Homo sapiens: one gene and its partners. The protein of the gene in region 1 interacts with the protein of each later gene in a pairwise test. Each region holds a gene or a part of one and is shown in the gene's direction. Other genes may lie near its edges.

Region 1 (7,413 bases):
TTTTGTATTTTTAGTAGACACGGGGTTTCACCATTTCACCATGTTGGCCGGGCTGGTCTTGAACTCCTGACCAAATGATCCACCCACCTCCGCCTTCCAAAGTGCCAGGATTACAGGCGTGAGTCACTGTGCCTGGCAACTATGATTGCAATCTTATAATGTAGTGGTTCTCAAAATTGAGCTTGCATTAGAATTACCTGGAAAACTTGTTCAAAGATTTCTCTGTTTCTGATGCAATAGATTTGGAGTAGGGCCCCAAACTTTTAATTTCTAAGATGTTTCCTGGTGATGCTGATGCCACTGAACCAAGGACCACATTTACAGACCTTCTTTTCTGGCAGACTATTGTTTTCACTGCTGTATTGTCAGTGCTTGAAATAAATATTGATGGAATGAAATAATAAATTTGAGGCACTTAGTTAACTGATAAAGGGGGATATATAATGATTTTACAGTTTAGAAGGAAAATCACAATTTTGCTGAAAGGTAAAGGAGTTACTATAATCAGAAAGGTACAAGGTATATCAAGGTTTATATCCAAAGAAAAACAAAATTACTTCTAACCTAGGGGAAAGGGTAGAAAGGTCATAGAAAGCTTTGTGGAGTAGTTTATTTGAGCTATTCCTTGAAGGACCCGTACACTTATTTCAAAAATGACTGTCATTACTCAAAATATTTGTAGTTCTTGTCTTTGGAATTTGTCTACTGAATCAATAGTGAATCTTTTCTTTTTTCCTTACACTCTATAGTGAATCTTTTTTTAAAAAATTCCTTCAAAGTGTATAGAATTTTTGTATTCTGATGTAAGGTTTGATATTTGGAATTAGCTAAGCATGATATTTTTGCCAAATCTGGTCAGGAAGTTGGGTGATTTTGTTGCATAATCCTGTTCTTTGTTAAAAATAAAGTATACTTTTCAGTTAATGTACCGATTTTCTAGTATGACTTATAAATGAAGGCCCAAAGCAATTTCAGGGTAGAAGTTCAAAAATCAGTCTGAGGCCAGGTGCAATGGCTCATGCCTGTAATGCCAACTCTTTGGGAGACTGAGGCAAGCAGATCGCTTGAGCTCAGGAGTTCAAGACCAGCCTGGCCAACACGGTGAAACCCCGTCTCTACAAAACGCACAAAAAATTAGCCATGAGTAGTGGCACACGCCTGTAGTCTTTACTCGGGAGGCTAAGGCAGGAGAATTGCTTGAGCTCAGGAGGCAGAGGTTGCAGTGAACCAAGATCACGCCATCGCACTCCAGCCTGGCTGACAGGAGTGAAATCCTGTGTCAAAAAAAAAAAAATTCATTTTGAACAATGGATTAAGTTTGTAGTTTCTGAAAGTGATTAAAGGACAGTTTCCATTTGGCCATAGATGCTCTTGTGTGTTTGAAATCAGTCTTAATATATCTGGTATCAATCTGTTGAAAGAATCAACGTCTGGACATACACTATACCATGTACACTTTTCTTCAGAGTGTATGCCATGCTATAAATATCTAAAATTTAAACTTTATGGGAATAAAAAAGCAGTATAAAAATGGATGTTCTTCCAAGTTAGATCTATAAAAAAATATGTACTGGTACCAGGAAATATACATAGGTTTATCTGAGCTCTTGATTTGGGGACATTGAGTTAACAATAAGTATTAGTTCATGTGTTCTGGGCATGGAATTACATGGTGGGTCACACTGGTCCTGTATGAACGGGGGCATGACAAACCATTCTTCTAGTTTGGAACAGTGGGACTAAAGAGAACATGGAAAGCCTGTGACTAAAGCACACTCTACAGTCATAACTTCCCCCTTCTTGTTTGTCCCATAGTCCTTCAGCTACTCTCTGTTCACCCAGTCTTCATGTCCAGGGTATCTTCAGTAGCAGATCAGCATGTACTAGAATAGTATATTAATAGTAAATTCATAATGTTTTAAAAACCTTTACCTCAAACCTTTTAATAGAGTGTACCAAATTTAGTTTGGTCTGATGTAAATGAGAAAATCTACTACCAATCCCTAGGACCAATGATTCTTAAAGATCTCCAAACCAGCAGCATCAGCATCACCTGAGAGCTTATTAGAAATGCAAATTCTCCAGACCTGATAAAGCAGAATCTGACTTAACAAGCCATGGCTCAAGGTGGTTCTGCTACATGTGAAGACCACTGGTTTAGACAGTATCAGCAGTAAAGAAACTCTGTCAAGATGTGCAATCTTCTACGAATTTTGCAACATATTATAATACCCCATTACCATCTTCATGATTACTACATTTAATACACACACAATTACACACATATTCAACTTGTAAGTTACCCTTGACAGAATGTGTATAAAAAAGGTATGCCTTCTCTTTGTAAAGTGATGGTATAGAAGGAAGAAAAATAGATTTGTCTTTAGTTTTTTTAAATGATACTATCCTTAACCCCTCCCCTTTCGTCCCCAATAAAAGAATCACACTGGGGAAACATTGCTAGCAGGTGACTATTCCGTTTCTTTGACATAGCAGGAAAATCTTATTAGGTGATGTAAATGAACCTTGTCACTTGCAAATATAAACTGTCGCGCATCTTGGGTGAACAGCTAAGTGCAGAACTGTTTCAAAAACTTGAAGGTAAATGGATGTCTTATTTGCAGCTAAACCATCATACTCATGTCAAATCTATTCATTGGAATAGGATACTGAAGATACATAATACAATTTTTTTGCTGAAATTTAAAAGTTTCATAATCCACTTAAGAGGCATATTTCAGAATAAAATAATTCTCTGTTTTGGAATTAAAGCACAGGCTTGGAGCAGTCCAGTCCACAGAAGTATAATGCAATCTATCCATATAATTTTAAATTTTCTAATAGCCACATTTAAAAAAGTAAAATGAAATGAATAACATTAACTTCAAAATAATTTTTTACTCAAATATATAAAAATATTACATTTCGACTTATAAAAAATATAAAATTGATGGGCTATTTTTACTTTTTTTGTATTTGATCATTAAAATCTTTCATGTATGTTACATGTATGGCACACCTCAACCAGTATGTTAAATTTTGACTGGAAATACTTTCTTTTTATTTGTTTTTATTTTTTGTCTTAGTGTTCTTCAAAATGATTTTTATTTAGAACACAATTTATTATTGCAAAAGTAGATTCTATATCCAAGTTGTTCTAAATACTAAAAAAGTTTTCCAATAGCTTACTGAACATTAGTTTTTATATTTAAATAAAAAATGAGATTTAAAATTCATTTCTTCAATCACACTAGCTTCATTTCATATATTCAATACACGTAAGGCAGTGTAGAATTGGAGCTATGCGAGACCAAGCTGGGTTAGAATCCTGACTTGGCCTCTTTCCAGCTGCTTGTCCTTGGGAATTTACCTAGCCCTCTCCAAGCTTCAGTTCTAGCTTCGAATTGCAGGCGGGGAAACACCACACTGAATATGTTTTAACTCCTACCTGCAAAGCTAACAGCAGAAGACAAACACCCGCTATTTGTTTCTCCCTTCATGGAAGTGGTGGACTCACTGCATGATATAATAAAAATCAGAACCAATCAACGTAGGGATAGTTAAGTAAATTTCTTTATTCCATACTCTGAAGCCATAAAATACTAATAACTAATTAATCACTAATTTATTTAATCACCAATTAATATTGAAATCGGTTGTTATTAAGGAAGAAAACCGTAATATTAGGAATAGCACGACGGCTGCCCGTGTGCTCAGGAAAAACCTAGAAGGGTCTGCCACCCATCCATTAACAGCGGTTATAGGAAGCAACAGAATGGGGGCAGGGCCCAGCCGGCACACGCTTCAGTTTATATTTCTTGTCAGTTAATTTCCAAAAACGTTGTTCTAAAAAGGAGATATAATACTGTTTTAGTTTAAGGGGCAAATCTCAAATGTGCTGAAACGACTACGCTTTTCCCTCAGTCTGGAATGTGATTTTAAATCTAGCTTAACTATACTATAATAAAAGGCCACATGAAAATACTTTGTCAGAACGAAAAACACGCCGCCTTAAATCCGCTTTCGGTTGGCGGTTTCCCGCCAGCGGAACGGAAGCAAAACCGCCTTTGACGTCAAGGGAAGAGTCCCCTCCCAGTTACTACGGTGAAGTCTATGCGGCCATCTTTACTGTGGTCATCTCGTACCAAGCGTGTCGTAGTGGGGCTGTTGGGGCCCCACAGAAAGTCAGCGGAACGTGAAATGGGAAAGGAATCATGCGACTCTGTAATAAGAAGCTGACAGAACCATGAAGGATCAGGGACTGAAAGCATTAGATAAGTTGTTAGTGGGATGCAGGTTCCACAGGCAAGCGGAACGATTCAAGCGAATTAGTAAAGTTTCTGCCCGGATCTTGAAAGCCGCTTCCGTTGCTCAGCGGAAGTGTCGGTCGCAAGAGGACAGACGCCTCGAAGAATCCGCTATCGGCTGTCTGCACAACCGGAATCATGTCGAGTTTGGCGGTGAGAGACCCGGCAATGGATCGATCACTGCGTTCCGTGTTCGTGGGGAACATTCCATATGAGGCAACTGAGGAGCAGTTAAAGGACATTTTCTCGGAGGTTGGTTCTGTTGTCAGTTTCCGGCTGGTATACGATAGAGAGACGGGAAAACCCAAGGGCTATGGCTTCTGCGAATACCAAGACCAGGAGACCGCGCTTAGTGCCATGCGGAACCTCAATGGGCGGGAGTTCAGTGGGAGAGCGCTTCGGGTGGACAATGCTGCCAGTGAAAAGAATAAGGAGGAGTTAAAGAGCCTTGGGCCTGCAGCGCCCATTATTGACTCACCCTATGGGGATCCCATCGATCCAGAAGATGCCCCTGAATCGATTACCAGAGCAGTAGCCAGTCTCCCCCCGGAGCAGATGTTTGAGCTGATGAAGCAGATGAAGCTCTGTGTCCAAAACAGCCACCAGGAAGCTCGAAACATGTTACTTCAAAATCCACAACTGGCTTATGCACTGTTGCAGGCACAAGTAGTGATGAGAATCATGGATCCAGAGATTGCTCTGAAAATTCTGCATCGGAAGATACATGTCACACCACTGATCCCAGGCAAATCTCAGTCTGTGTCTGTCTCTGGCCCTGGCCCTGGCCCTGGCCCTGGGCTCTGCCCAGGACCTAATGTTCTGCTGAACCAGCAGAATCCTCCAGCTCCTCAGCCTCAGCATTTGGCTAGAAGACCTGTGAAGGACATTCCTCCTCTGATGCAGACTCCTATCCAGGGTGGAATTCCAGCTCCAGGGCCAATACCAGCTGCAGTTCCCGGAGCTGGTCCTGGTTCCTTAACTCCTGGAGGAGCAATGCAGCCCCAACTTGGAATGCCAGGGGTTGGCCCAGTGCCTTTAGAGCGGGGACAAGTGCAGATGTCAGATCCTAGAGCTCCTATACCTCGCGGACCCGTGACTCCTGGTGGTCTGCCTCCTCGAGGACTGTTAGGAGATGCTCCAAATGACCCACGTGGAGGGACTTTGCTTTCAGTCACTGGAGAAGTGGAGCCCAGAGGTTATCTGGGTCCACCCCATCAGGGTCCCCCCATGCATCATGCCTCTGGTCATGACACTCGTGGCCCTTCCTCACATGAGATGAGGGGAGGGCCATTAGGAGATCCCAGACTGCTAATTGGAGAGCCCAGAGGCCCCATGATAGATCAAAGGGGTCTACCTATGGATGGTAGAGGTGGTAGAGATTCTCGAGCGATGGAGACTCGTGCCATGGAAACTGAGGTCTTAGAGACACGTGTAATGGAGAGGAGAGGAATGGAGACCTGTGCGATGGAAACCAGAGGGATGGAAGCAAGGGGCATGGATGCAAGAGGATTGGAGATGAGGGGCCCTGTCCCCAGTTCAAGAGGCCCTATGACTGGTGGAATTCAGGGTCCTGGTCCCATTAATATAGGGGCAGGTGGCCCTCCTCAGGGACCCAGACAGGTCCCAGGCATTTCAGGGGTGGGGAATCCTGGAGCTGGTATGCAGGGTACAGGCATACAAGGAACAGGCATGCAGGGAGCAGGCATACAAGGAGGAGGGATGCAGGGGGCAGGCATACAAGGAGTCAGTATACAAGGAGGAGGTATACAAGGAGGAGGTATACAGGGGGCAAGCAAGCAAGGTGGAAGCCAGCCTAGCAGTTTTAGTCCTGGGCAGAGCCAGGTCACTCCACAGGATCAGGAGAAGGCAGCTTTGATCATGCAGGTTCTTCAACTGACTGCAGATCAGATTGCCATGCTGCCCCCTGAGCAAAGGCAGAGTATCCTGATTTTAAAGGAACAAATCCAGAAATCCACTGGAGCGTCTTGAAAGGTTTTAGAAAATATTTGGCTGTAGTCTCAAATTTTATTCTGTAGCATGGAGAATGGGTGCAAAAAGCTGACTTCTGTATCCCCACACTTGGATTAGGGTTTCCCTCCTCCTAGAACCTAATCTTATTTTTTGTTCTTTTTCTTTCTTTCTGTTTTCCTTTTTTTTTTAATTGAGGGTGGGGGGAGGAGGGAGTGCGTCTGTTCACTTTAAGTTACTTTAAAATAACTCTGAACATGATTATATTATGCCAAATAAGATTACAAAGAATAAGCAGCAATATTGAAGCATCTACAGTATGTTAACTACATTTTTTAAATGTCGAGTAAAACTTCGTGAAAACTGCTCATAAAGACTAAAAGTTGACCTGTTAAAACGTTAATGTACTAAGATAGTTTTAAGATTTTTGGTTGTATAACAAAATAAAAGTTTACCCAAAAGTATAAGATACATTTTTTGGTAAACCATTTAAAATACAAAATCCTATTTTGGAGGCAATAGGATAAGCATTGTCTTAGTGTTTTAGAATTATTTTTGAAACAGAGTTAACAGGATAAGGTTACACTTGTATTAGAATTGTTTTTTTCTAAAGTTATGTTACCTGAAAAATCAAGGAGTGCACCTGATTTACTGTTGCTTCATTTATCCCATCCTTCAGAGACCAGCAAGGTTCTGCCAGGCCCCAAGCATCTGAGCATGATGATTTTGCTGTGACAATTCTAAGATCAACCAGGTTACTTAAGTCCGCTCTGATGAAACCCAGTCTCTCAATACCTTCCTATTTCTCAATAGTCTTTAAGCCCTAAATCTGAGTCAGTAATTCTCTAAAAATCCTTCCCAAAAATCAGTGTCTAGGGACTGGTTGATCTAGATGAGTTATAAATGGTATTTGACTTTTCATAAGTAGTGGAAGGTTTCACTAAGTAAAGATCTGAGTTTCTTGGTATCTGACGTTTGTATACAGATGGTGTCCATTTGCTCAACCAGACAGGAGTTAACTTGTATTAGAATTGTTTTTTCTAAAGTTATGTTACCTGAGAAATTAAGGACTGCACCTGGTTTAATGTTGCTTCACTTATCCCACCCTACAGAGACCAGCAAGGTTCTGCCAGGCCTC
Region 2 (7,738 bases), on another chromosome or scaffold:
AGGTCAGAACTCTGTGTCTAGTGGCGGCAGGCTACCCCCTACTCCGTTGATCACAGGTCCCCAGGAATCTGGAAGAGTGGAGATGCGGTCTTGGCTGTGGTTCAGTTGTCTCATTTGTAAATGGGAATAACATTTCCCCACCTCGTAGGTTTAGTGTCAATCCTAAAAGACCTAGTGTAAATGAAAACATTGTAATCTGAAAGGTGTAAACAGACATTAGGTAGTATTACACATACAAAGCATATAATAATAGTAAACATAGTCCTAGCTATGTTCCAGCATTTTTAAACAGTACTTTAAATTTAATTTTTATTTTTTGAGATGGAGTCTCCGATCTGTCGCCCAGGCTGGAGTGCAGTAGCGCGATCTTGGCTTACTGCAACCTCTGCCTCCCAGGCTCAAGCGATTCTTCTTCCTCAGCCACCCGAGTAGCTGGAGCTACAGGTGCGTGCCGCCACACCCGACTAATTTTTGCATTTTTAGTGAAGACAGGGGTATCACCATATTGGCCAGGCTAGTCTCGAACTCCTGACCTCGTGATCCGCCCGCCTCAGACTCCCAGTGTTGGGATTACAGGTGTGAACCACCACGCTCGGCTAAACAGTACTTTTTAAAAAATTGTTTATCTTGTAATAATTCAAACACACACAAAAGTAGAGAAAATAAGATTTTTTTTTTTTTGAGACAGTCTCATTCTGTCACTCAGGCTGGAGTGCAATGGCACGATCTCAGCTCACTGCAACCTCCGCCTCCCGGGTTCAAGCAATTCTCCTGCCTCAGCCTCCCGAGTAGCTGGGATTGCAGGCACCTGCTATCATGCCCAACTAATTTTCATATTTTTGTAGAGACGGGGTTTCTCCATGTTGGTCAGGGTGGTCTTGAACTCCTGACCTCAGGTGATCCACCTGCCTTGGCCTCCCAAAGTGCTGGGATTACAGGCATGAGCCACCACGTCTGGCCCAGAGAATAGCATTTTAAAAAAACTGTTGTAAAAAGCAACATTCGTTCAATCTTTCATCTATCATCTGTACTCCTCTCCCCCATTACTTGATTATTTTGAAGCAAATTTCAGGCATTTCATGTCTAAATACTTTAGTATTCATAAATATTCATAAAATGGTAATTCCATTAGCACCTAAAGTATACAATAATTGTTTGATATCGCCCTCAGTATTGGAATTTTACCAGTTGTCTCATAATATTTTTTCCAGTTGCTTTGTTTTAATCAGGATCCCTCAAAAGGTCTACATATTGTATTTGATGGACATGTCTCTTGGTCCACATATATTGCATTTGGTTGATAAGCCTCTCAGTCTCTAGGTCCTTCCTCCTTCAGGCATTTAACTAAATATATTACATGTATAAAGGCACATAATCCCTTCACAACATTATGAAATAGGTACTATTATTATCCCCATTTTACTGATGAGGAAACTGAGTCACAAAGCAGTTAAATGACTTACCTAAATTCTCACAATTATTAGGACTCACAGTTGAGAACCACTATTTTTGTTTCACGTAATACACAGTCTCTAATAAGTGCTTCCAAAACGTGCGTTGTAGCATATTAGTCTCCAATTTTATAAAGAATAGTTTTGCTCAAGGTAAATTAACACTCATGAATAATTATATAACATGTTTTATTACAAAGAAGAGTGGATCCTTACATTTTAATTTCTGTATGTTTCAGTGACTTAAAAAATCCTTCTCCGTATTACCCGCCTTAATAGAAAGTAAAGTGAGAATGAATGTAAGTGCTTCCCCCCAATCTTAGGGCAAAACCATACCAAACCAGCCTTGTCAGTTTCTTTTAATTTTAAAAATTACATAAGCAAATCTACACAAACACTAATTATAGATACATTAAAAAATGAAGTAAATTAAAATAATCCATAAACTCACATCTTTGGTGTGTATCCATCTTCTATGTGTCTATTGGTATGCACACAAATATATGCATGAACATATATATATTTTAAAAAGCAACTATATGATTGCATTATACAAATTTTAAAATATTATTTTCTCACTCAAATAAGTCAGATATATAAAACAATGGTTCTTTAAAATAATGTATGCCTACTGCAAAATATCTAAATGATAAAGAACATTATAAAAATAAAACAACTCCACTCACTCTACCTTTCAGAGATAAATACAATTATTCTTGCAAATGCTAAATAGTACTCTGTTGTACAGATGTGCCATAATATATTTAAAATTACCCTATTTTGGATATTTAGGTCTTTTCTAATTTTCCAGTTACAAAAAATACTGCAGCAAATGTCTTGTAAAAACCAAATAATTTCTTGAGCTTTTTATTTTTCCAAATTGCCAGGAAGATTCTAATCCTTCCCTCATGTTTCCATTTTTAGTACAACTGCCTGTCACTCAAGCCCTCCAATTTCCATACACAGGAAATGTCAAAAACGGTTGAAACATAACAAAACATCTAATACATAGCAAGAAAGATTTGCCGCCAAATTATCTGCGTGTGGGAGAATTATTTAATGCCTCAAAGAGAGGAAAAATACATCTTTAAACCTGAATATAGGAAGTGTGAGCAGGAAGAACAGGCTTGTTTTGGTTTACTGCCTTTAATTTTGAGGATGACTTTAAATTCTGATCGCTCCGGACAATGGTATAGAAGTCAAGAGCTGGGCATCGGAGTCATTTGGATTTAAGTCCTGACTCTGCTACTTACTAATTAAGCGAACTCACACATAGTATCTGTAAGTCACAATTTTCTCATCTGTAAAAGAAGTATAATAATAGTGTCTTAGGGAATCGCTAGAATCATCAATGTGACAACACATGCAGAATGCTCAGTGCAATGCCTGGCATATTGTAAATATAATTATTCATATAATATATACATACAACTTAAGTATGCAGTCTTTTGGGGGCAATTCAAATATTTTGCAAGCAATATTTTTGTATTCGTATTATCTTTTTTTTTTTTTTTTTTTGAGACGGTGTCTCACTGTCTCCCAGGCTGGAGTGCAGCGGCACGATCTGGGCTTACTGCAACCTCCGTCTCCCAGTTTCAAGTGATTCTCCTGCCTCAGCCTCCCAGGTAGCTGGGATTACAGGCACGCACTACCACGCCTGGCTAATTCTTTTTTTTTTTTTTTTTTTTTAGACGGAACCTGGCTCTGTCGCCCAGGCTGGAGTGGAGTGGCGCGGTCTCGGCTCACTGCAACCACCGCTTTCCGGGTTCAAGCGATTCTCCTGCCTTAGCCGGCACTACAGGCGTCCGCCACCGCGCCGGGCTAATTTTTGTATTTTTAGTAGAGACAGGGGTTTCACCACGTTGGCCAGGCTGGTCTCCAATTCCTGACTTCAAGTGATCCCCCCGCCTCGGCCTCCCAAAGCTTTGGGATTACGGGCGTGAGCCACTGCGCCTGGCCTCCTATTATCTTATGTGCTATAAAGTAGAGAGTAGGCCGGGCCGTGTTTCCTGCCTGTAATCCCAGCACTTTGGAGGCATAAAAAGGGAGAATAGTTTAAACCCAGGAATTAAAGACCAGCCTCGGCAGCATACTGAGACCCTGCCTCTATTTAAAAAGAAGAAAAAGATAAAGAAAGAAAGGAAAGAAAGTAGGGTAGTTTGATAAAAGTTTAAAAAGCCTGAGTATGGGCCGGGCGCGGTGGCTCACACCTGTAATCCCAGCACTTTGGGAGGCCGAGGAAGGTGGATCACGAGGTCAGGAGTTCGAGACCAGCCTGGCCAACTTGGTGAAACCCCATCTCTACTAAAAATACAAAAATTAGCCGGGCGTGGTGGCGCGCGCCTGTAATCCCAGCTGCTCCGGAGGCTGAGGCATCCCAGCTGCTGGGGAGGCTGAGACAGAAGAATCGCTTGAACCCGGGAGGCGTAGGTTGCAGTGGGCCCAGATCGTGCCATTGCACTCCAGCCTGGGCAATAAGTGAAACAACACCTCAAAAAAAAAAAAAAAAAAAAAAAAAAAGCCAGAGTATGAAATATATGAGAATTTGCAGCAGAATAATATGACTTCAGGATGTGACAGCTGTAAAGGGTAAGCAGGCCAAGTATCAAGGTCCCTTCTTCGCTGAGCAAGATTGCGGAGAACAAGGGCCATGCACAAGTTTAGGAAGCTGAAACAAGGAACAGGACCCAGATCTTCTGATGTTTATTTCACCGTTACACGCTCATTTATCATGTATCCACTCATTCAAGGAGCATTTACTGAATTCCAGGATGATATAAGGGTAACATATAAACTTCACCCCAATCTTCACCTCAATGCTCATGATCCTTTATAAATTATCTCGAGGGAAAGAGAAGCCCATCAAAGACAGTCCTGAGAAAGCTGGGGCTGTTCATCTGTATACGGAGTTTAACAGAATGAAACGCCGGAGTTGGGGTGTCAGCTGGAATTGACGGTATACGGTGCGCACTAGGGACTCTCCCGACGGGGAGCAGTGAGTTGTCATCCCGGGTAGACGGCGAACTCCCGGAGCCACGCGGCCGCAGGTGGGCGAGGGCGGCGAGATCCCTCGCCGGCGTGAGAGCGGCCGTGGCTCTCCAGGCGGAGCGCACACCGGGTAGCGAGGCTCGCGGCTCGGCGCTGCCCGCGGCTCGGCGTCTCCCGGCTCCTCCTTAACCCGCGCCGGGAGGCGGTGGCGGCAGCGGCCGGCGGGCGGGGGAGGGGGAGGGGCGCGGAGCGCGGCGCGGAGGCCGGGGAGGAGCCGGGGCCTGCAGCGGAGCCGAGCCGAGCCCGAGCCCGCGCCGAGCCCTGACACTGTCTGCCCGCCTTCTGGCTCCCCGGGAGCCCAGACTGGTCGGAGCCCGAGCGGTGGCAGCGCGGGGAGCCCCACGCGCCGAAGGGAGCGGACCCGACAGGACGGCCCTAGAGGAGGTGCTGCCGCCACAGTAGCAGGGACCGGAGTCTCGAGCCGCGGCCTCCCGGACCGTGCTGCCCAGGCCAGCTCAGGGACAGCCGGGAGTACGAAAGCCCCACCCTCTGGGGCACCCCGGGAGCGGAGGCGGGAGCGGGGACGCGAGCAACCTCTCCCCCTGTTGGAGAGAAAAGACCCTTACCACTCGGGTGAGGGAAAGAAGAGACCCCTGGAGGGGACGCCTCTCTCCTGCCTAGAGGCGAGGAAGACCCCTGTACTGGCCGGGGAGGAGACCCCCAGAAGTGGAAAGAAGGGAGCTTTCCGTAGGGAAGCAGAGTGAGACCACCCTAGCGCGCCCCCGCCCCTCCAAACACACACTCTCAACAGTTCAGGACTTTGGAGGCAAAGAGAGACGGGGCTGTGCCTGTGGAGTAGGCACCCTCGGCCCACCACTATTCACAGGAGACAGGAGTCCTTACGTTCAGAAGCCACTCCAGGGAAAGAAGAGGAATCGGCTTTCAGCCTTCTGGAGAGGGGAAGACCTCCCCCTCAACTTCCTCGTGCCTAGACAGTGGAACGGGGTGGAGCCCCTCCGCTCCTATCTCCAGCAGACAGAAAGAGCCCTCCACCTCAGAAAGATCCAGTTTGGGGGGGAGGGGAACTCCCCCAAGGGGGAGGAGACAACTCCTGGTTGGGAGAGGCTCCTCCCCTCCTCCCCCGGGTAACAAGCAGGGTGTGGGGGGTGTGCCACCTTCCCCAAGTAGGACCTCCTTCTCCTCCCCCTCCCCCTCCTCCAACCTTGACTCCTCATCCTCAGGGGACCCAGTTCCCCTCACCAACTTGGGAGGCTCAGCCTCGTCCAGGAAGAGCCACTGAGGATGAGAGCCGTCACCTGCCTCTGAAGAGGGGAATCCCTCCAACCCCAAACTCCAGTACCAGGTGGTTCCCTCCCTTTGCCGGAGGAACCTTGGAGACAGGTTAGTGCTTTCTTTCATCTTCTCTCTGTCATTGTCTGGCACTAGTGGGTGTAGGGGGTTGAGCTGGTGGATCGTGGGTTTCACTGCCGGGGAAGACAGAGTGATGACTCAGAAAATCCAATGGGAAATGTGATCCAAGGGAGCTCCTGGATTTGAACCCACATCTTGCTGCAGAAGCTCTGAGAAATGGGTTTCTTAGTGTTTGGGGACTAAAGGGATGGGATTCATTTTAGGTCCCTTAGGGAAGTGGATGTTTTCATGCTGAGGAAAAGGGTTATCGGAAAACAGCTGCATTTTGAGAACATGCATACTGTGTAGCAGTGATTTACACAACCCAACCAGTGGTAAGATTCCCATACCACCCTTCACCCTTGGGCCTTTTCCCCTGGAGAGTGGGCTGTCATGAAAATCACGGTGGCATCTGGGGTCCTGGCCTTGCCCAGGGCATGCCGAGGTCAGCTTAGTGTTCACCAGAGGTGTTCCCTCCAGCTTACTGCAATTATAGCTCCCTTGACAAGAAAAGCAATCTGTTCCTGCTCATCCTATCTCAGATACCAAGAGGCCTCCTCTCCTGACATTTCCATTCCTAGCTGGATGTATGCCTCTGCCCATAAAATCCAAAGGGAAAATGGGAATCCCACATGTTCTGAGGCGAGAAGAAAGTGTGCAGGGGAATGCCAACTCCCGGGTTAAAGTGCTTCCTTGATGCTGGCCCTGAACCACTGCCCCAGTCCCCTTCTCGACTCCTGTTTTTTGCTCACAATTCTTCAGGAAAAATTAGATCCTGGATACGAAGGGAGGAGGGCTGCTGCTCCGCTTCTGTCCAGACTTCCAGTTAAACAAGTTGACCACTGGAGAGATTTCACTTCTGAGGAGTATATAAAGTTTCCTTCCAGAAAAGTACCTAATAGTCTCATCCTCTCCCTTCCTGTTTCTTGTTCAGTTCTGAGTCCCTCGAACCTTGTGTTAAAGTTTTCCTTCATAAGCTAGGGAATTATCAAAGTCCAGAATCTTCAGAAAAGGCAGGAAAAGGGTACCAGGAAATCCTCCCCTGAAGCCTAGGCTGTTTTTAGGAGAGGTCACTAGCTGGTTGTCTGCTTTCCTGCCTCACCATTAGCAGATACCTTATCTTCTGTCTCACAGCAAGGACAAGTTGTGAAGGAGGCTTCATCTGACTTGGCCTTTCATATTTCCTCCTCTCTCTGGGGCATGGGTGAGGTCTACCTAAATTCCTGAGTACAGTCATTTGTCCTGGAAGCTACTGGTGGTATATGAGATAGGGCACAGGTTTGTGTGGCTGTGCTATAGGACAACATGCATATACTTCTTAATTCATGTGAATGTGGCTCTCTGTTTCAAGTGGGTATGTGTGTGGAGACAGGTACTTATGTGCTTTTCAGACTATACTCCAGTTACCTAGAATTGTATGTTTCTGGTGGGCCTCTAGAAGCAGGTGCCTCTGTACAAGGACATGGATAGGTGGTGGTAAGGATGGCCACCTGAGGGGAAAGGCTTGGCCTCCCCCCAGTCAATGGGAGCCCTCGTGACGGTCTACAGGACAGTCCTTTAAGCAGCAGGGCAACCCAGTCTCAGGCTGGGATCATTTCTTCTAGGACTAATAAGAGAGCTTCATTGCTGATACCTCTGGTCTCAGAAGGATGAGGATCCTTGACTCCTAACTCCAGAACTCCTTCCCCTACCTTTTACAAAAGAGGCCTCGCTGGTTAACAGCAGCCTGTTTCTTATAAAGTACTTCACCAGATGCTGGCGTGCACCTGCCTGAATGGCTCAGGGTGAACTATATCACAACATCTCCAAGTACACCACCGCCACGCAGTTTAACTGGCCCTGCTTGGACTGAGTTCCCTAACCCTGCTTGCTTCTCTGGAATCAGTTAG
Region 3 (7,022 bases), on another chromosome or scaffold:
AGATTTGTTGATATAAAATTTTAAAGGCCTCGTGTTATAGTATTTCATACTTAGTGCTCTGTGTGGAACTTTGTTTAGAGATGGTATGTTTCCAAACCAGGAAACAATAGTATATAGTGATAGGTCTTTCTTTCTTTTTTTTTTTTTTTTTTTTGAGACAAGAGTCTCGCTTTGTCGCCCAGGCTGGAGTGCAGTGGCACGGTCTGGGCTCATTGCAAGCTCAGCCTCCTGGGTTCACGCCATTCTCCAGCCTCAGCCTCCTGAGTAGCTGGGTACAGGCGCCTGCCACCGTGCCTGGATAATTTTTTTTTTTTTTTTTTTTGTATTTTTGGTAGAGACGGGGTTTCACTGTGGTCTCGATCTCCTGACCTCGTGATCCGCCCTCGTCGGCCTCCCGAAGTGCTGGGATTACAGGCGTGAGCCACTGCGCCGGCCTCTTTTTTTGAGATGGAGCGTCCATGTCGCCCAGGCTGGAGTGCAGTGGTATGATCTCGGCTCACTGAAACCTCTGCCTCCTGGGTTCAAGTGATTCTCCTGCCTCGGCCTCCCAAGTAGCTGGGACTACAGGTGTGCACCACCACCGCTGGCTAATTTTTGTATTTTTAGTAGAGACGGGGTTTCACCATGTTGGCCAGGCTGGTCTGGAATTCCTGACCTCGTGATCTGCCCACCTTGGCCTCCCAAAGTGCTGGGATTACAGGCGTGAGCCACCATGCCCAGCCAGGTCTTTCTTTTTTCTTTCTTTTTTTTTTTTTTGAGATGGAGTCTCGCTCTGTTGCCCAGACTGGAGTGCAGTGGCGCCATCTCGGCTCATTGCAAGCTCCGCCTTCCGGGTTCACACCATTCTCCTGCCTCAGCCTCCCCAAGTAGTTGTGAGTGGCTAATTTTCTTTTTGTATTTTTTTTTAGTAGAGACAGGTTTCACCGTGTTAGCCAGGATGGTCTCGATCTCCTGACCTTGTGATCCACCCGCCTTGGCCTCCCAAAGTGCTGGGATTACAGGCGTGAGCCACTGCGCCTGGCCAGGTCTTTCATTTTAAAGATAGAGTTTTCTTCTGATTATGATTTGATTTTCAAGTTAGGAATTTTTGCTGTCATCTTTTTAAAGGTAATCTGACATTTGTCTATTCTAATGCAGGTGTCAAACCACCCATAAGAATTCTGACAGTTGAGTCATTTCAAATGGGAAACTAAAAATGTGGTAAGCTCGGCCCGGTGCAGTGGCTCACGCCTGTAATCCCAGCACTTTGGGAGGCCAAGACTGGCGGATCACCTGAGGTCGGAAGTTCGAGACCAACCTGACCAACGTGGAGAAACCCCGTCTCTACTAAAAATACAAAATTAGCTGGGTGTGGTGGCACATGCCTGTAATCCCAGCTACTCAGGAGGCTGAGACAGGAGAATCGCTTGAACCTGGGAGTCAGAAGTTGCGGTGAGCTGAGATCGCGCCATTGCACTCCAGCCTGGGCAACAAAAGTGAAAACTCTGTCTCAAAAAAAAAAAAAAAAAGTGGTACGCTCTAGATCCAGCCTTGGGTTTGGGTTTCTTAGTCCACAGCAAATTAGACTGGAAAGTTGGTGGTTGCAGGGAGATTTTAGTAGCACTAACATTTCAGGTAGATTGGTGATGGTGTGTTTTTTCTTTAGTTTTGCATTATGCAGAATTGAAAATGCGGCAGTACAGTGCATAACCTTATATGCAACATCTTGATGTAAAGATTATTAGCATTTACATAATTTCTACTTGATGTAGAGATTATTTGCTCTTTTTGTAGAAATATTTTAAAGTATAGATGTATCATTTTCGACTTTATATACTTTATTGTATCTTTACAAATTTATGTAACTATACATAATCACAGTACTGTTACCAGGATTAAACATAATTGTTTCATACCAGCTGATACCCAGTATTCAGTCGTGTCCCAGATATCTTTAAACTCTGTTTACAGTTGTTTCAGTCTAAATCGAGTCCAAACAAAATTCAGCTATTGCTTTTATGTCTATATCTATTTTAATTTAGAATTATCTGGCCTTCCTCCTCTCCCGCCCCCTTTTCCCCCCACCATTGCCTTATTGAAGAAACTGGGTCATTTGTCCTCTGGAATGTCCCACTTTTGGGGTTTGTCTGATTGTTTCATGGTGTCATTCAGCATATTCCCTCCTACTCCTGCGTTTCTTGTAAACTGGAAGTTAGATGTAAAGGCTCCATTTGATTTTTTTTTCCCCCCAGACAGAGTCTTGCTCTGTTGCCCCATCTGGAGTGCAGTGGTGCGATTTCAGCTCACTGCAGCCTCTACCTCCCAGGTTGAAGCGGTTCTCATGCCTTAGCCTCCCGAGTAGCTGGGATTACAGGTGTGTGCCACCACGCCCAGCTAATTTTTGTATTTTTAGCAGAGACTGGGTTTCACCATGTTGCCCAGGCTGGTCTCGAACGCGTGGTCTCAAGTGATCCGCCCTCATCGGCCTCCCAAAGTGCTGGGATTACAGGGATGAGCCACTGCAACCAGCCAAGTAGAGTTTTATTATTATTGGTCTAGGCTATAAGTCAGGTCATTATGGAAGGAGAGCCTCCTAACATCCTTCAGTACTTCATTTGAATTTGCAGTTTTTGGCTGTTAGGAATAATGCTGTTACAAATGTTCATGTCCAACTGTAGGTGTAGCATGTGTTTTCACTTCTCTTGGGTATGTACCTAGGAGTGGAATTGTGGGGTCATGTGGTAACTCTGTTTACCTCAGAGTTGCTCAGGAGCTTCTTTGCCTACCAGAGGACATCTCCACTCAGGCCTGTATTTAAGGGTCTCCACTTGGTGGTTGTACCTAAGCTGTGTCTCCACAATCATCTATTACTGATTCCCTACATAGAGCCTAAGCTCCAAACAAACTCAGTTGCTTAATGTTCTTAAAATGCATCTTGCTTGTTCTCATTTCTGAGGCTGATTTGATCCTATCCATTGTTTATTGGAAATGCTGCCCTTTAATTATTATTATTACTATTTTTTGAGACGGAGTCTTGCTCTGTTGCCCAGGCTGGAGTGCAGTGGCACGATCTCAGCTCACTGCAACCTCTGCCTCCCAGATTCAAGTGATTCTCCTGCGTCAGCCTCCTGTGTAGCTGGGATTACAGGTGCCTGCCAACACACCTGGCTAATTTTTGTTGTATTTTTAGTAGAGATGGGGTTTCACCATGTTGGCTAGGCTGGTCTCCAACTCCTGACCTCAAGTGATCCTCCCACCTTGGCCTCCAAAAGTACTGGGATTACAGGCATGAGCCGCTGTGCCTGGCCTAACGCTGCCCTTTAATCAAGTTTTTCCTATTTCTTCCCTCCTCCACAGAATTTTTGCTCTCCCCTCTCAGCCCTCAGAACACTTTATTCTCTTGTGACTCTTTTTTTTTTTTTTTTTTTTTTGAGACGGAGTCTCGCTGTCGCCCAGGCTGGAGTGCAGTGGCGCAATCTCGGCTCACTGCAGGCTCCGCCCCCTGGGGTTCACACCATTCTCCTGCCTCAGCCTCCCGAGTAGCTGGGACTACAGGCGCCCGCCACCTCGCCCGGCTAATTTTTTGTATTTTTAGTAGAGACGGGGTTTCACCGTGTTAGCCAGGATGGTCTCGATCTCCTGACCTCGTGATCCGCCCGCCTCGGCCTCCCAAAGTGCTGGGATTACAGGCGTGAGCCACCGCGCCCGGCCTTTCTCTTGTGACTCTTAACACTTGTTGCCTTGTATCAGAAAGTATTCATACTTTTAATCTTATTATGTATATGTTTGCACTGTCCAATACGATGGCTGTCACCTACATAGGACTGTTGAAGTTAATTAAACTAAAAATTCACTTACCATATTTGGATAGTACAGACAGGCTTTCATCTTTGTTTTTGAGATAGGGTCTTGCTCCATTGTCTAGGCTGGACTGCAGTGATAACGATCATAGCTCACTGCAGCCTCGAACTCCTGGACTCAATTGATCTCAAGTAGCTGGGACCACAGGTGTGCACCACCGCATCCAGCTGATCTTTTTACTTTTTGTAGAGACAGGGTCTTGCCATATTGCCAGGGCTCGTTTCCATCTTTGTGAACAGTTCTGTTGGACAGCGCTTTTCCAGATTGTAAAACTCAGAAGAGATTGTGACTTGCCATTTTGTTTTCTCTGTGGCCTTTGTGTAGTGCTTTGCTTATCTGGAATTCAATTAAGAAATAAAAATTAGTAGCTCCTGGCACAGAAGAAAGAAATAACATTTGGGAAATATTTGCTTCTTGAGAGATGATAGTTGAACCAGAGAAGTAGGTGAAGTATTTGCAGACCCCCACAATTTCTTGGTTGCAGATCCGCCAAGCATGGGTTAAAAGTACAGGGGACTAGGGATTGGCAGTTGCTAGTATGTTTATTCCTAAACTGTAGGGTAAGACACACAATTGATTCTCCTGCCTACCTGCTATGCCTTTGTATACTTGTTTCCTCCCTACTCTGAACTGTAGGCCTGCACTGTCCAGTATAGTAACCACTAGCCACATGTGACTACTTATGTTGAAGTTAAATAAAGCTAAAAGATCAATCTCACAGTAGCCTCATTTAGCCTTACTTTTCAGATGCTCAGCACTCTTGGCAGGCGGCTGCTGTAGGGGACAGCACAGATGGAGAAGGATGTGGTCATTGTACAAAGTTTTGTTGGTCAGTGCTGGTCAAGACCTATCACGTAGCTGTAGTTGTGAATGGCATGACAAATCTGGCATTTGGATTTGGTTTAGAAGTTTAAAAAAATTAGACAGTTCAGGTAATGAATGTTTTAGTTACTAAAGTTGCCAGTTTATTCCTGATTTAATCCAGAACTTCCTGTTACAGAGGCTAAGGATGTGACCTAATATTTTCTTCTTACTACAGGATTGCTTGGTTGTGAATATTCTAAATGAGACAAATGAGCTGAAAATTTGAAGTGGTTTCTTTTTGTATTTTGTCTTCGTAATGGATTTTGACACCTAGAGTGTTCTGAAAGGCATTTGTTTTTTAGAAAGTCGGTAGGTAGTTGCAGCTATTTTGTACCAGATGTTGTTATTGATGCTGGAGATATTGCCTTTAAACAGAACCAAGTGCAACTGTTCCCTGCTTGTTTTGGCTACATTCTAAATGGGGATGTGGGGAAGACAGACATAAAATGCACATTTTGTGTTTTGTTACTTATTACATGTTTTTCAGAGATGGAACCTTATTATATTGCCCAGGCTGGTCTTGAACTCCTGGCCTCAAGCGATCCTCCCACAGTGCTGGGAATACAGGCATGAGCCATTGTACTCAGCCTAAAAATAGACTTTTTTTTAGGTCTAGCAGTTTTAGGTTCACAGCAAAATTGAGCAGAAGGTACAGAGAGTTCCCATATACCCCCCTACCCCCACACATGCTGTTTTAATCTTAAAGATCACCTTAATCTTTATAACCACATACGTCAGTGAGTGATTTACCAGATGAGGAATAGTGAAAGCTTACACTTTAATACACTGCATTTTAGGAGGCCAAGGCGGGAGGATCACTTGAACTCAGGAGTTCAAGACCAAACTGAGTGACGTAGTGAAACTCTGTCTCTACTAAAAATGAGCCAGACGTGGCGATGCACACCTGTAGTCCTGGCTACTCTGGAGGCTGAGGTGGGAAGATCACTTAAGCTTGGGTGATCAAGTCTGCAGTGAGCTATGACTGGCAGAGCGAGACCACGTCTAAAAAATAAATAAAAGTAAATAATACCCTGGATAAGATTCAGAGGAGCTTACTAGAGAGCTGAATGGGAATCAGTTCCCAACAGTACTTCTGTTGGGGAGGGGTAGAGTCCTGGTTGTGGCTGTGCAAGTTCTTGAACTTGTCAGGAAAAAGAAAGATCCATGGATGATAAAACATTGAATGGATTCATAGAGGTGCTGGGCTGTAACCAGTTAGTCTTTCTTAGGAAAAAAAACTTAACAAGTTTTTGAAGAAATACAGGAAACTAGAGTGGCATGGTGGCACACACCTGTAGTCCCATCTACTCGGGAAGCTGAGGTGGGTGGATATCTTGAGCCCAGCAGTCTGAAACCAGCCTGGGCAACATGATGGAACCTCATCTCTATTTAAAAAAAAAAAAATACAAAACTTAGCCAGATGTGGTGGCACCACACCTGTAGTCCCAGCTCCTAGGGAGGCTGAGGTGGGATAATCACTTGAACCCAGGAGGTCAAGGTTGCAGTGAGCTGAGATTGTGCCACTGCACTCCAGCCTGGGCAACAGAGCAAGACCCTGTCTTGGGGTGGGGTGGGGGGGGCGGAGGGGAGAAATACAGTCCCAGCACTTTGAGAGGCTGAGGTGGGCGGATCACGAGGTCAAGAGATGAGACCATCCTGGCCAACATGGTGAAACCCCGTCTCTACTAAAAATACAAAAATTAGCTGGGTGTGGTGGCGCACGCCTGTAGTCCCTGCTATGCGGGAGGCTGAGGCAGGAGAATCACTTAAACCTGGGAGGCAAAGTTGCAGTGAGCTGAGATCATGCCACTGCACTCCAGCCTAGCGACAGAGCGAGACTCCGTCTGGGAAAATAAATAAATAAATAAATAAATAAATAAATAAATAAATAAATACAGGAAATTGCAAAAGGACCACTAAATCCACTCCCATCTAGAGTCAATCACTGTTCATATTTTTATATATTTCTTTTCAGACTTTTTTTCTGTTTGTGCCAGGGATGCACATTTTTATACACATAGGTGTTTATATGGGATCATACTGTGTAATGCAGGATGCAGTATAATACTCTACTTTGTTTTCACTTAACATTGTATTATTCTGTTTTTAAACATTTCTTGAAAAGCAGCTGCGTGATATTTCATGTTCTGGATATGTCTTGGTTAACTTAACTATCCTCTGTTAGAAGAACATTTTGGTTACTTGTAGGGTTTTCCCCATGTTTTTTTTGCGACAAAGTCTCGCTCTGTTGTCCAGGTTGGAGTGCAATGGCATGAGCTTGGCTCACTGCTAATCTCCACCTCCTGGATTCAAGTGAT
Region 4 (7,535 bases), on another chromosome or scaffold:
GCCCTCATTTCCTTGCTCCCATTATCCGTGTTGCAGCCCTCAGGGCCTGTGGCAGCTTTCTCTGTAAACAATATCTCCCTTCCTCAGGCCAATTAAATAAGCACTATAATAAAGGCAAAGGCAAATGCAAAGCACTGGGCAGCCCTGTGTAAAGGGCTATTAAACCTAATGCTGCCATTCATTTATTGAAGAGCCTCCCATGTGCCAGGGACTGTGCTAAGCTCGTTAGATTTGTGATTTTATTTAATCCCCATGGTGTCATGAGTTGGATTCTATTATCATCCTCATTTCACAAACACAGAAACTGAGACTTGGCACTCACCAGTAATGTCCCAGATAGCTGGCCATTTCATTACAGGGTGGAGAGCTGAGCCAGGGCCTGGCGATCCCAGAGCTGGTGTTCTCTTTTGGGGGATCCAAGGATCCTTTGAAGAGAGGTGATGTTTCCATGAAAGCTTATAAGCAGATAGGATTCAGAAGGTAGGAAAAGGGGGAATGAAAACCCGGGGCTGAAGGAAGAGTGTGAGCAAGTACAGGAAGGGCCCAGAATCCAGAATGTACTCTGGGGCCCATGAGCTGGAGCAGGAGTGCTGGGTAGAATGGAAGTGCCCAAACCTCACAACTGCAGTGACTTTTAAAATACGGGCTCCAAGGCCTTTCTCCAGACTGATTTCTCTAGGGGTGGAACCTGGAACCCTGAATTATAAAGAAGTTCCCCGGGGGTTGGGGTGGGGGTTCTGATGCAGCAGGAAGCACTGGAAATCACTAGAAGGTGGAGTTGGGGAGGCGTTGGCAGGAATGGAGCAGATTAGCCTGAAAGGGGATCAGGGCCAGATGAGGACTAACATGAAGACCTTGCTAAGTAAGGAGTGTGGCATTCAAGGTCCTTCTTTTTATTATAAGGCCCAGTAACTTTTTAGGCTAAATCTTATAAGCAATGGAAAGCTACTGATGATTTTCAGGAGAAACCAAGGTGTGATCCAACCTTTGTTATAGGAAGAACATCCTTGTGCAAGTGTATAGGAGGGATTGGAGATACTGGAGGCATTGAGACCAGTTAAAAAATTATCAAAATATTCCAGGTGACTAGTGATAAGTCTGTCAACTAGGACTGGAACAATGATGTTTCATTCAGTTCAATCCAACAAGCATTTCTTTAATATGTTTTCTGGATTGGGCACTGGACCAGGTTTTAGGGATCCTAAGATGAAATAAGATATTGTCCCCATCCTCAGGGAACTCGCAATCTATCAATATTCATTAAAAATAATTAAGTTGAGAGTGAAGGGAACTGTAGTTGGGTGGTATTATGGACTAAATTGTGTCCGCCACCCCAATTAATATGTTGACACCCTAACCCCCAATGTGACCGTATATGAAGACAGGGCCTTTAGGGGGGTTAAGCGAGGTCATAAGGTTAGGCCGCAATCCAACAGGACTGTCCTTATAAGACGAGGGAGAGACCACCAGAGCTGTCTCTCTGCCTGTGTACACAGAGGAGAGGCCACGCGAGGGCACAGTGAGAAGGTGCCATCTACAAGCCAGGAGGAGAAGCCTCTCCAGAAACCAACTCTGCTGGCACGTTGATCTTGAACTTCCAGCCTCCACAACTGTAAGAAAATCAATGTCTCATGTTGAATCCATCCAGTGTGTGGCATTTTGTTGTGGCAGCTTGAGCAAACTAATACAGACAGGTCTTAAATTTTTATTCATATTGTGACATTGGCAGAATTCAGTTGGGCCATTGATCACCCACATTGGAAGATTGGAGGAGGCAGCCTGGGCTGGTGTGGGCTGCTTATACCACAGACAAAGTGCAGGTAGAGTGAGAAGAGGGCCCAGAACCAAACAGAAACTCCAAAATTTAGGAGTGATAACTAGGATTTGTAGAAACTTCTATTTGGTTATAATGTCAGTGTGTTGATGGCTTATGCAATACAACATGTACATTCCTCTCCATTCTCTTCTTCATCCTCAGAGGGATGATGGGGAAGAAATTGTAGAGTATCTGTAGTGAATTCTTAATTTCTACTCTATCCTTTCTCTACTCATTGACAGAGCCAAAACTGAGATGTGGAACTCATGGAATTTGACATATTGACAACTCATTTCTTCATTAAGTATTTACTAGCTTGTGTCTTCTGTTGATTCCTGTATTATTGCTACTTAATGTTTTACATATTGGCGCTTTGTCTTCTTCAACAAATGAATGCTTCTTGAGGACAGGAGCCATAACCTGAGCCTCTTTGCTTCTGCTCTTTATTCTTAGTGCTAGCACACAGCAGAGCTTCTGGTGGGTGCAGGGAAAATATTTGCCTTCAGTGATTATAAAAACGATGGTTATATTTTGGATAATCATTTTTTAAGCTCTTGCAAATGACAAAAATAGTCAAAGCAAGATATATTTACTTAAAACTACGATGTGCAGTTTAAAGCACCAAAAAGGTATTAGTGAAAATCATAGTATTTGAAGACTCCAAAAATTAATAGCTCATGGCAATGGATCTCCCATATCAGGAAAGTGTTGGGCATTGATCTAGATTTCAGAAAACGAGGGGTGTGACAGGTGTAAATCAGTGATCCAAGGCTGTTGCCTGCGGTCCTATTTATGGCTCACTGACACCTCTCTGATGGGGTGAATTCAGCCTGATTTTCCCCTCTGACTCTGCAGGCTGCAGCAACTCACTGGGAGCCATGGGAAAGAGAGAAACTCCTCCCTCCAGGGGTCCTGGGCAGAGACAAATGGATCTCCCCTCCCCCTCCCTTATCTGAAGAGGGCTTCCCTCTGAGAGTTTATGGCAGCCTGACCTCCAGCCTCTGGGTTGGAGAATCTGGCCGCTTCTGTACCACATAAAAAGGGCAAGTGCATTCATTATTATTATATTATTATACAATGTATAATATATAATAGCGATTATGCTGTCAGCAGCCAGAGACTCTGACTGCAGATCAGAGGCTAGGGTGACATAAATCCACCTAGTGAAGTTTTTGAAGGTTCTATGTGAAGGTGAGAGGATTCTAATCTGTCTATAATGGGGGCTACCACTGAAGAGTTTCTCCCACAAGCAACGTTGGTGGGTGGATTTGAGGGTATTGGGAGGATCTGGACAAACAGTAGTGTGTGTATCTGGGATGTGATATAAGAAGGGTCTCAATTGCCTCCCCTGAGCCAGGCAATGCTAACAGCTCTCATCCTTGCCCATGACGGAGGCGGGTGAGTGGCGACCCAGAGGCCTGAGAAGAGCTCAGGGGCAGCCTTCAACTTCTTGGGTCAGATTCTTTACTGAAAACCCAGAGGCTGGGTTTCACTTTCTGCTTTCCCGCTTTTGTCGGTGTCTTTGTCTGGGCTTCTTCCAGGCCCCCTGCCTGGCCTGGGGTCAGAGGATCAATGGCTGCCTGACTGGCTGAAAGGGCTCCTCTATGGGGAGCAAGAAGCAAACTTCCAGAGGCAGAAGGGGTTCTCTTGTCCCTTTATGCGGAGGGCCATGTGCTAAGTTGAGGAAGCAAGCAAGTGTGCTCCTGTGTGTGGCTCTTAGTAGGACTGTGATCTCTGCTGAGTGAATGGAGGCGCTTGTGGGTCTACACATGCCTGCTTTTGTCTTCCACTGTAGAGGGCATGTAAGGAGCCCATTTCCTCCCTGATGTAGATGAAGCCACCCCAGCAGGCCCAGGCTGAAACAGCCCAGCTGGTCTTTCCCTTTATATGACTGCACCCCAGCCCCCAGAACTCTGGGAACTCACTGAGTTTCTTGAGGACTTTTTATTAGAATGAAAATAGCAGTGGCTTAGAACAGGCTTGCCTGACATTTGCAAAGAAGTGCTTTACTGACAAAGCCTATCCACTCTTTCCTCTCTCCCTCTGCCCCACCTTGAACCAGACACCCCGGGAAGCCCACAGCAGAAAAAGCTCTTGAGACCAGGAATAACTAACCAGAGTGTCATCTGAACACCTTTTCTGGGGCCAGGGTAATGAGAATTATTCAAATGCAATCATAAAAATGAGGCCAGCCAGGCAGGAAAAGGGGGAGGGGGAGTGCTGGTGGAAGGAAGGATTTCTTGCCCGTTTTAAGTTTCATCATTTCTGGGGAGTTCTCTTGGGGTCCACAGAAAATCTCACCTCATCTCGGTCCCCTCAGCACCGGTGATATCTTGGAACTCGGCCCCGGTTGTTCGCTAAGGAGGACTTGGCTTGGGGGCGGGAGGGTGCTCCAGAGTTCCTGGGGGTCCACCGCACTCCCCATCCGAGGCTCCTCGCGAGCGGAGCCGCTTCTCCAGGCCGCCCGCCTCCCTGCCGCAGGAGCAGGCCCGCGCCCGCCGCCCGAGAGCCTCCGGTAGAGGGAGACACTCCAGCGGCTCCTCCGACTTGGCAGCGGCCGGGCCGGGAGTGGGTGGGGGTGATGGGGGGTGGGGAGAAAAGGGGGAGTGGGGAGAGGGGAGGTGTGTGAAGGGGGGGTCCGGGGGGCGGGTCCCTGTGCCGCTGACGTCCCGAGCAGTGCTGGGAAGTATAGGCTGTGTTGTCACGCCGGTGTCAGTCTGATGAAGATTGGCATCAGGTAAGCTGTCATTCATTTCCATGTCAGAGACGCTTTTGCAGGCGGCGGCGGCGGCGCGGCGGCGGCTGCTGCTGCGGGCGGCTGCCTCAGAGCGCGTGTGTTTTATTCCAGTCCCCAAGCCAGAGTATTATTCATTGCGACAGGGCAAGGAGGAGAGAGGGAGAGAGGGAGGCAGCAGGGAGGAGAGAGAGGGAGGCAGCAGGGAGGAGGGAGGCAGGGAGCAGCGAGGGACGGCGGGAGCGTGCAGAGAGAAGCTGGGGAAGCGCCGGGAGAGCGCGGAGCGGAGCAGCGCGAGGGGCGGCGAGGCCGGGCACGGAGGCTGCGAGAGCCCCGCGGGCCGCCCGCTCCCCTGCCCGGCCAGCGCTCAGCCCCGCCGCCGCCGCCGCCGCCGCCTCGCCGCGCTTGGGCCCGTGGCCGGCCGCGCATTGTCCTCGGGTGCAAGGAGCCGGGCTGCGGACTCGAATCGCCGCGGGCCCAACCCCGTAGCGGGCGGGCGGGGAGCTGTGCGCCAGGAGCGCCAGGGGACCCGAGAATAGGAACAGGCACGCCGGCCCGAGCCCGGGTGCAGAAGGCTCCCGGCCGGGCGCTCCGCGGGGAGAGGCTGGGAACCGCGGGCAGGCTCCAGGTTCTCTTTCTCCCGGCTTCGGGCGTCCTTGGGGCCGGCGCTTACTCCGCGCCACCAGCCTGGAGATGCTTTCCAGCGGCTGGAGGCGGGAGCGGTCCCAGGCTGGGGCCAGGTGACCGGAGGAGTCGAGGAGCCGCGGCCGCGGCCTGGGGAGGCAGGGCGAATGAGGGTTTGCAGACGGATCAGTGGAGACAGGGGAACACCGGCGGGGCCCGGGAAGCCAGGATCCGAGGGGCTACACGCACGGACCCTCACCCAGGGAGGAGCGAGAATGTGTAGGGTCACCGGCTTTCCATGATTGCTGGGGATCTTTGGTGAGGCGGGCGTAGGGGCCCGCGCGAGGCTTGGGAATCGGGAGCCCTTCTGGCTCGAGAACTAGGGGATGAGTTCGTAAAAGAGGGAACTGAAAGCGATCGAGAGCGGAGAGCTGAGGGGGATGGCGCAGGATCCCGAATCTGCCGCTCAAAGTTTGCATTTCTTTCGGGTTAGGAGACGGGCTTTCCTGGCTCCCGATCCCCAGGAAGAAACGAGCGAAATGGGCCGTCCTTTCCCGGGGCTCTTCACGGGGGAGCCGGGGGTTTCCGCGCGGTGGGGAGACTCGGGTTGGGAATTGAGGGGTAGGGGCTTGTGGATCGGCCTGAATTAGGGCTGGGTTTTAGGACCAGTCTAGAGTTCGGTTTATAGGATCCAGACTGTTTACGGAATCGGGATCGAGGGGCCGATAAGTAGTTTACACGCCGGCCAGAGCAGAGGGCTGGAGGTCGGAGTTGGGGGCTGGAGGAACGGGTGGCGTTTTTAGGATTCAGTAACAGGATCACAGCTTTTTCTTGTGGTGGAAGCTATTGGAATTTGGGGAGGGTAGCACGAGGGGTCCTGCAGCTCCGCGTGTGAAAAAGCGTTTAGGTAGGCGATGAAAGTAGTTGATCTGAGCCATGGCAGGCGAGCCCCGAATTTTTGCTGCTTCCCCCTGAAAGTGTTTCTTTAGGAGGAGAGGACTTGGGCCACACAGGACCCGGTCCTAAGAGAGCGATTCCGGGAAGCGGACAGATCGAAGAGACCTTCTGGGCGAAGCGGCAGGGCAGCCTCGCGGGGCTGGGAGTGGATCTGAGGTCCCGACCCAGGCGGCTCGGAGTGCTCCAGGAGCCACCTGGGTCTGCGGGCGCAGCGCGGCGGGGCGGGAGCGGTGGCCCGCAGGGGCCGCGGCCTGCGATGAAGGCCGGGGGGCAGCGCTAGCAGCGAGGTGCCACAGTGGGCCGAGGAGTCTGGGCTGTGGCCCAGGGTAGGACCGGCTCAAACTCCAGTGCCCTGATTGGAGCCGCTTCCTGTGCTTACCCGCGCCGGACTGAGAAGCCCACAAACCCGGCCTTTGGTGCGCCCGGGGGAGGAGGAAGCTTGGAGTGCCCTACTGTCATCTCTCCTGTCCGGAGACTTCAGGATATTAGCTTTTCGGGTTTCAAATGCTCTATAACCGGTGGCAGCCAAAAGCTTCGCATTTTAGGCAGTTTAGACGATCCTCCCCGCCCCAAATCTGAGAATGATGGTGTTCAAACATAACACGGTGTATTACCCAAAGCCCCTGCCCTTGCCCTCCTGCTCTCTCTGCCGTTCTGGCCTTCGGAGGCCCCAGGACCTTGGTGGAAGCGGGGAGGGAGGGTCCCGTTTCTGGTCTCATAATCTCCCACTCGGGCTGCATCCCCATAGCTTGGGCCTAGCTGTGGGGTGTGGGGTGGGAAGGGGTCCCGACCAGGGAGGTAGGTTATTCTCTGGGCATCTAGAGAAAGAGTGTGTGTGGGGGGTGGGAGCGGGGGGGAGGAGGGCATTGAGGGGAGGAAGATTTGAGATTTCCTCCTCTTAATATTAAACCCACCATCCCAGCCCCCTGCACCCCTGGCAGGGAGAGCCAGACAGCCCTTACAGGACACGGAAGACGCACGACCCACGACCCACGAGTGGCCTCGGCGGCCCGGGGCGCGGCGACTGCCGCCGCGGAGCTCCAAGGCTGTTGTTTTGTAGGCTTGGAATTCGTGAGAGCTCTCTCCCGCTGAGAGCCCGAGGGGGGAGGGAGCCGTGACCCCACGGAGACTCCCTGGTCACCGCCTCCCCTTTGTGAGCGGGAAAGGCTTGAAAGCCAAGAGAAAGAGAGGCTGCTCAGAATAAGGGGCAGGGGGTTACCGGAGGGAGATGGGCCCGACCACCGCTCACAGTAAAATGCCTCGTGCGAATTGCACTGAAGTATACCCAACTTGAGACTGGCTGTTTTATGATCCTCTCTGGGAGTTTACTGCTCTCTGCTTTTAAGTCTATAGATTGCTTTAAGTTAATGAAAGTGCTGCTTTCAAAAGGGGCTTTTATTGTGT

Evidence for each region.
Region 2: the proteins of CSTF2T (region 1) and FOXJ2 interact in binary tests that used the Homo sapiens proteins (3 or more experiments, as listed by UniProt).
Region 3: the proteins of CSTF2T (region 1) and FAM168B interact in binary tests that used the Homo sapiens proteins (3 or more experiments, as listed by UniProt).
Region 4: the proteins of CSTF2T (region 1) and PKNOX2 interact in binary tests that used the Homo sapiens proteins (3 or more experiments, as listed by UniProt).

Annotation. Positions count from the first base shown.
Region 1 is NC_000010.11:51,696,582-51,703,994, reverse strand, and holds the start of CSTF2T (cleavage stimulation factor subunit 2 tau variant), read left to right. Parts: upstream 1-4,399; 5' UTR 4,400-4,445; coding exon 4,446-6,296; 3' UTR 6,297-7,413. UniProt on the Homo sapiens protein: May play a significant role in AAUAAA-independent mRNA polyadenylation in germ cells. Directly involved in the binding to pre-mRNAs.
Region 2 is NC_000012.12:8,027,994-8,035,731, forward strand, and holds the start of FOXJ2 (forkhead box protein J2), read left to right. Parts: upstream 1-4,722; 5' UTR 4,723-5,840; intron 5,841-6,073; exon of another isoform or gene 6,074-6,184; intron 6,185-7,738.
Region 3 is NC_000002.12:131,083,452-131,090,473, reverse strand, and holds part of FAM168B (myelin-associated neurite-outgrowth inhibitor), read left to right. Parts: intron 1-1,137; exon of another isoform or gene 1,138-1,511; intron 1,512-7,022. UniProt on the Homo sapiens protein: Inhibitor of neuronal axonal outgrowth. Acts as a negative regulator of CDC42 and STAT3 and a positive regulator of STMN2. Positive regulator of CDC27.
Region 4 is NC_000011.10:125,160,224-125,167,758, forward strand, and holds the start of PKNOX2 (homeobox protein PKNOX2), read left to right. Parts: upstream 1-4,527; 5' UTR 4,528-4,553; intron 4,554-7,535.